Linked DNA regions of Homo sapiens. The protein of the gene in region 2 interacts with the protein of the main gene of each other region in a pairwise test. Each region holds a gene or a part of one and is shown on either strand. Other genes may lie near its edges.

Region 1 (3,168 bases), on a different chromosome or scaffold from region 2:
AAAGATTATCTGAGTTATTCTATTATTTTACAAAGTTTGAAATAGCCATTAGATACCCTTACAAACTTATCATTTTTGTGATTGATTTTAAGTCTACTGAAAATGTCAAAAGAAATCCAAAACTGATTGCTAGTAACTAGGCCAGGTGTGGTGGCTCACACCTGTAATCCCAGCACTTTGGGGCCGGGGCAGGCAGATTGCTTGAGCTCAGGAGTTCGAGACCAGCCTGGGCAACATGGCAAAACTCCATATTTACAAAAAATACAAAAAATTAGCCGGACATGATGGTGTGTGCCTGTTGTCCCCGCTACTAGAAGGCTCAGAAAGAAGGATCACTTGAGCCTGGGAGGCGGAGGTTGCAGTGAGCCAAGACTGTGCCACTGCACTCCAACCTGGGCAACAGAGACCCCAGCTCAAAAAAATAAAATTAGTGTTAACTTGTACTGTTTAGCCACATTCATTAAGTTTTTAATTTTAACTCTACTATCGCACAACCAGGAATGTACAAGAGATCTGGAGCCTGATTTGCATGGCAGGAAGGAGACCACGTATTTTTGTTTGGGATGGGTTTTAGCCACTATCAGAGACATAGTTTGTTTCTTAGGGGTTCGGTCCCAGTAGTATGATACTTAGTTCATTTAGGAACTTCCTTTTTTAACGGCTAAGAAAACATTTTAGCTACTAAATGATATGCAAAGATAACTTTCCAAATTTAAGCTGTACTCAAAAATCCACAGAATCTGCAAAACTCTCAAGTTTCTATATTTAAATAGAAATGTGTGTTGATATACATACTTTAATCAGTCATTTCTTGCTTTCAATATATTTTATTCTGACGAAGTTACAAAAGTAGATACAAAATACTTTTTTTAGAAGTACAGTTAACTGACTTAGAAAAATAGATAAAGCCCCTAAGGATTTTAAAACACAACATAAATTTTTATGTAAAGAACATTTAAAAATATTTTAGATGGTAACCAAAACTAACTTACACAAACTATTTTTGATGTAGAATAGAATGCTGTTCTATAATAAGAAGTCTGTAGCACACTGGTAATCCATTTGGATCTACAGAATACTTGTTTGGAACAGAATCTGATAATGAGAGAAAACTCAAATGAATGTCAGTGCAGTTGCTTCAAAAAAATTACTGCTACCACATGTACTATCATCCCCCAAGGCCTTTTACAGTCTGAAATATCAAAATTGAAAGCAAAAATAGGATGACCAAAGGACTACTATTTTACCTCTTTTCAGAACTCTACAATAGTAGAAACTAAATTCCCTTATGGATCTCAGGGGGAAATAATGTGCCTGTTGAAGGGGCTCAGTGTTTGGTGTCCAGGCTGGCATTTTTCAGGTGAGGGTTTCATACTGACAGGAGGCAGGCTCCTAAAACAAGGCGGTAGCACCAGCACCATGACTAGGGCTGCTTTAAAACAAATTTCTAGGACTTACGCTCTTTGGGCCTGATTTGTTAATGCTTATGAGGTAATGATATTATGTTTGAGAAGCTCTACTTCTAGTATACCTCAATGCTCAGAGAGAAAGCCAACAATACAATCAGGAAACCACAATATTGACAAAACTTAGTACTACCACCAAGATTGTTCCTCTTGCCTTGGCACTACTAAAAAACTTTACCTTTGTTACTAAAGTCATGGTGAATACAGATTTTGCATTTCTCATGTAAGCAGCTATATAAGCTAGGGTTCTACAAGCCTTAGATGAAAGGAAAAACTTTGCTGGAAGCCCTGTAAAAATCACTTTATTCACAATCTGAAGAATGAAAGACAAATTTGGCTGTCAATACAAAAACTGTAGTACAAGGAAGTTCAACTGTTTAAAAATCTGCACATCACTGTACAAGTGTTTTTTGAAGGCCTGAAAATTAAAGCACCATAGGATTAACTGCATAATTTAGCAAGCACTCTCTACCCCATGACTGTAATCATGTATGAAGAGCAGAGATCAGACACTGAGAGGAGATGGCTTCTGATTAGCAAGGGGGAAGGGAGTGAGTGTTATGGAACAGGCAAACCTTGGGCATGGGGAGATAAAAGTGAGAAGAGTCAAAAAGATTGATTTCTATAGGCCGGGCACGGTGGCTCATGCCTGTAATCCCAACACTTTGGGAGGCTGAGGCGGGCGGATTGCGAGGTAAGGAGATGGAGACCATCCTGGCTAACACGGTGAAACCCCATCTCTACTAAAAATACAAAAAATTAGCCAGGCATGACTAAAAATAGAAAAAATTAGCTGGGCGTGGTGGCGGGCACCTGTAGTTCCAGCTACTCAGGAGAGGCTGGGGCAGGAGAATGGCATGAACCTGGGAGGCAGAGCTTGCAGTGAGCCGAGATCCCACCACTGTACTCCAGCCTGGGTGACAGAGTGAGACTCTGTCTCAAAAAAAAAAAAAAAAAAGATTGATTTCGTCAAACTGTTATCAAAGGTTGGCCCTCTAGCCAACTCAGGAAGGCGCCATCCTCTTCCCATTATCTCCCCTTCCTCCAATTCTCCTCCTCCCCTTGGCTCCCTAGCCTTGGAGGTAAACACTAATATTTCAGTGCACTGTTGGTTAAGCCAGATTGGCTTGGGAACCTGGTAATGTTTTTATTTTTATTTTAAAAAAGGACAGTCTTGAGTCTCAAAATACCAACACATCTCTGATTTATGTCCCATTTATAAGCTGCCTTTACTACTGTCCTGACATGTGATCGTCTTTCATTTGCTTTGGAGCTTAGTGGTGAAGAGAGGGAACATTTCCATAACTGAAAATAAATGGAGAAAAGTGGTAACTCTTTTGTTTGAGAATATTTGAAATACTAGAAATAATGAGGAAAGTACAAGCCTAGCTGAGAAACTAGTTTCATCACTTGTGGACTTAAAAAAGTAAAGCTAACAGGGTTTAAAGTTGAGAGGCAGTTCACATCCTAAGTGATACCTAGAAACCTGCTTTCTTGTTCGCAAATGATCAACATGAACATACAGAATGGCTGACATTTGGACCTTTGGATAAGCTTAAAACATGGATTGTGGAATGTCTAATAGAGGGCTTTTCTCTCTTTTTTTTAATAATGACTGTCCCACACTTTAATTCCTCAATGATATGTGGATGCTAACTAAATCAGATGAAATGTTTTCTTTAAAATTCTGTATATATTTAAG
Region 2 (3,816 bases):
GTCGTGGGCGCTCTGAGGCTGACCTGCTAGATTTTGGCACTGTGGATGTGTCTGGGCAGTGCAAGCCCAGCACAGTGCCAGGCGCTGCCGGCTCTGGCATGGTGTCCTCGTGGCTATGGTGATGTCCTTGTGGCTGTGGTGGCTGCCCCGTGTAGCAGCACTTTCCCTGCCCACTGAACCCACTCCTTCCCTCACAGATGACACATTTACCTTCTGGCGGGGGCTGAAGGACGCCGGCCTGCTGGACGAGGTCATCCAGGAGTTCCACCAGGAGCTGGTGGAGACCATGAGAGGCCTGCAGCAGCGGGTCCAGGACCCTCCCCTGCAGCTTCGAGGTGAGAAGCTGCATCTTCCCTCTTGCTGGCTACTCAGCCCAGGAGTCTCTGCAGGAGGTGAGGCCACTGGCCCTCCTGCCCCTAGGCCCTTCTGTGCTGCTGGGTTGGAGGCTGAATCTAGGCTTGGGACTCCTGCTGTGCTGAGGCTGAACTTGGTGGGAGGATCGCCTTGATGTATCTCAGTCTTCTCCCTCTGAACTGAGCTCCTGGCTGGCTGGGTTCCTGAGGAGCAGCCTCAGTGGTGGTGTTCTCACTCTCTAGGAAGAGCCCAGGCTCTCACCGAGCGTCCACGTGACTCTCTAGGAAGGTCCCGGGCTCTCACCGAGCGTCCGCGTGGCTCTCTAGGAAGGGCTTGGGCTCTCACTGAGTGTCCGCGTTACCCTTTAAGATGCTGTACTTCTCAACAACATCGTGCAGAACTTCGGCATGCTGGACCTGGTGAAGAAGGTGCTGGCCAGCCACAAGTGCCAGATGGACCGCTCGCGGGAGCAGTACGCCCGGGACCTGGCAGGTATGCTGAGACCACCCCCGTCCCGTCCCCTGGGCGGTAGGCTGAGGACCTGGAGCCCACGGGCTCACCCCACGGCTGTGCATCCACCTGCACTTCCTGGAGTCACCGCCACCACGGCGAGCTTCTCCGCACTGCTGTTGTGCGAGGAAAACAACCTGAAGCTTAAGTGAGGTAGTCAGACCTCTCCATTGCACTAAGCTTACATTTACCGGCATTTCTGTGATGAACCAAGTAGTTATTTAAGAGAAAATGACAGAGGCCAGGCGCGGTGGCTCACGCCTGTTATCCCAGCGCTTTGGGAGGCCGAGGCGGGCGGATCACTTCAGGCTAGGAGTTTGAGACCAGCCTGGCCAACGTGGTGAAACCCCATCTCTGCTGAAAAAAACAAAACAAAACTGGGCATGGTGGTGTGTGCCTGTAATCCCAGCTACTCGGGAGGCTGGCAGGCAATTGCTTGAGCCCAGGAGGTGGAAGTTGCAGGGAGCTGAGATCACACCACTGCACTCCAGTCTGGGTGACAGAGCGAGACCCTGTCTCAAAAAAAAACAATGACAGAGAATGGGAAGGGCTGGTCCTGACCCCGCTCAGAGCTCAAGCCCCTGATATTGGTGCGTTTCCTCCATGCTCCTCTTGGGGTCTGTGCTTACTGTGTGTTCACTGTGTGTGTGTTCAGTGTGTGTGTGTTCACTGCGTGTTCACTGTGTGTTCAATGTGTGTGTATTCAGTGTGTGTGTTCACTGTGTTCAGTGTGTGTGTATTCAGTGTGTGTGCACTGTGTGTTCACTCTTCACTTTGTGTGTTCACTGTTTGTGTTCATTGTGTGTGTGCACTCTGCATGTGTGTGTGCATGTTTATGTTTAAACACATGTGCCACATGTGCTGCTTTTCCTCCTCTCTCTCTTAATATGTCACAAGAGCAACTTTCCACGCTGGGTGTGTGAAAGCTCATGCGGGGATCTGAGACGGCATTTCCACGCTTGCACGCAGGCCCTGGGTCAGTGCAGGAGGGTCTGAGACGGGATTGCCACGCTTGCACACAGGCCCCGGGTCAGTGCAGACCCTGGGTCAGCACAGGCTGGTGTCTACCCCGAGGGCCATCTTGGGCCCCGTCTCCCACAGACCTCACCTTTGGCGGCCATGTGGTCATCTGGGTTTGTGGCATCAGGTGAGCAGACCTGGGTTGCCACTGACCCAGGGGCCACCCAGATGGTGTGGCGTGTCTGCCCCCATCCCCTGCATGCCGCCATCCATGCCCCCGTCCCCTGTGTGATGCCATCTGTACCTCCCTGCAGCCCTGGAGCAGCAGTGTGATGAGCATCGTCGCCGAGCCAAGGAGCTGAAGCACAAGTCCCAGCACCTCAGCAACGTGCTCATGACGCTGACGCCGGTCTCCCTGCCACCGCCTGTGAAGCGGCCCCGGCTTGCACGTGCCACATCAGGACCGGCCGCCATGGCCTCGCAGGTGCTCACCCAGTCTGCCCAGCTGGCGCTTGGCCCGGGCGTGCCCGTCCCCCAGCTGACCAGCGTGCCCCTTGGTAAAGTGGTGTCCACCCTGCCGTCCACCGTCCTGGGCAAGGGTTCCCTTCAGGCGCCCCCCGCCAGCTCCCCGGCCTCCCCGCTGCTCGGGGGATACACAGTCTTGGCCTCTTCCGGCTCCACCTACCCCAGCACAGTGGAGATCCACCCGGACGCGTCCAGCCTCACGGTCCTGAGCACGGCCGCCGTGCAGGACGGTAGCACGGTGTTCAAGGTGGTCAGCCCGCTACAGCTGCTCACGTTGCCTGGCCTGGGCCCCACCCTGCAGAACGTGGCCCAGGCCTCGCCTGGCTCCAGCACAATTGTGACAGTGCCCGCAGGGGCTGCCCCCGGGCCTGAGGAGCACACGGCCACCATTGAGGTGGCTGCCATGGCAGAGGACCACGAGCGGAAGTAGCCGACAGGAGGGCGAGGCCCCTGGGACGGACAGGGCTGGCTGTCTCTCAGCCGCGGCAGCAGGGAGCGGGCAGAGGCCGCAGGGCTGGCTCGGGCAGGTGGGTCACGTGGTCTGCAGAACCAAAGAGAGGAATCGCCAAAACAAATCACGAGAAGAGAGAAGGGGACAGAACAGCGAGAGCAACCTGGAAAATCGGTCTTCAGGTCCCACGTTTCCTCCCCCTTTTTTCTTGGGAAATATATTTTTCCATCTGTTGCTTATTAATACTGTTTACACATTGGGCCTTGATCAGGAGCCAGGTGGGCGGGGGCTAGGGGGAGCCTGGGTGCAGCAGAGACAGAGGAAGCAGAGCCAGGTGCCGAGCGCGACCCTGCAGGTGCTGGACGCGGTGCAGCAGGTCACGAGGCCCCCATGTCTGCACCCAGCCAGGTCCCTGGGGACGTTACTAACTCATGACTTGGGAGCTAAGCCCAAGTGTGAAACCTCTGGATCCTATGGATTTGGTTTCTTCCCACAGTTTTCTGTAGGTTTAGTGTGGCTGGCGCCCCGTTCTCCTCCAGTTGGGAACATGCACCCGGAGCTTGGGGTGCAGATCCTGATGGGTGCCTGCCTCCCCCGCCCCCAGCCGGTGCTCAGGTGGCCCAGGGGCCGCACAGACGAGGCGTGGTCCAGGCATTGTTGCACATGTACTGAGGGTGTTTTTAAGTGAATTGCTTAGTAGGCTTCTAGGAAGAGTCAGATTTATAGCATTTTCAACCAAAATAATGGTGAGTGCCTAGGCTTCCCGAGTTAGCTCTTTGGGTGGCCCCTGAGCCCCTGTGAGTGCACTTGACCGGGTGCGGAGGTCCTGGGCAGCCTGTCCCTGAGCCGGCCCCTCCCAGGGGTCTGAGATCCATGAGGTGTGTCCCTAGGGCTTCAGTCCTGGGGCAGAGGCATAAACAGAACCAGTCACTATGGAGGTCGAGGATTCCCATGTGGGCCCTTCAGCTTGGGCTGCTTGGCCACGGAACAGCCCTTGGCTCCCTGGCCCCCGGCCC

What was found.
Region 1: the proteins of GMEB2 (region 2) and MOB1A interact in binary tests that used the Homo sapiens proteins (3 or more experiments, as listed by UniProt).

What each region holds. Positions count from the first base shown.
Region 1 is NC_000002.12:74,151,787-74,154,954, forward strand, and holds the end of MOB1A (MOB kinase activator 1A), read right to left. Parts: 3' UTR 742-3,168; downstream 1-741. UniProt on the Homo sapiens protein: Activator of LATS1/2 in the Hippo signaling pathway which plays a pivotal role in organ size control and tumor suppression by restricting proliferation and promoting apoptosis.
Region 2 is NC_000020.11:63,589,052-63,592,867, reverse strand, and holds part of GMEB2 (glucocorticoid modulatory element-binding protein 2), read left to right. Parts: intron 1-197; coding exon 198-335; intron 336-723; coding exon 724-846; intron 847-2,138; coding exon 2,139-2,779; 3' UTR 2,780-3,816. UniProt on the Homo sapiens protein: Trans-acting factor that binds to glucocorticoid modulatory elements (GME) present in the TAT (tyrosine aminotransferase) promoter and increases sensitivity to low concentrations of glucocorticoids. Also binds to the transferrin receptor promoter.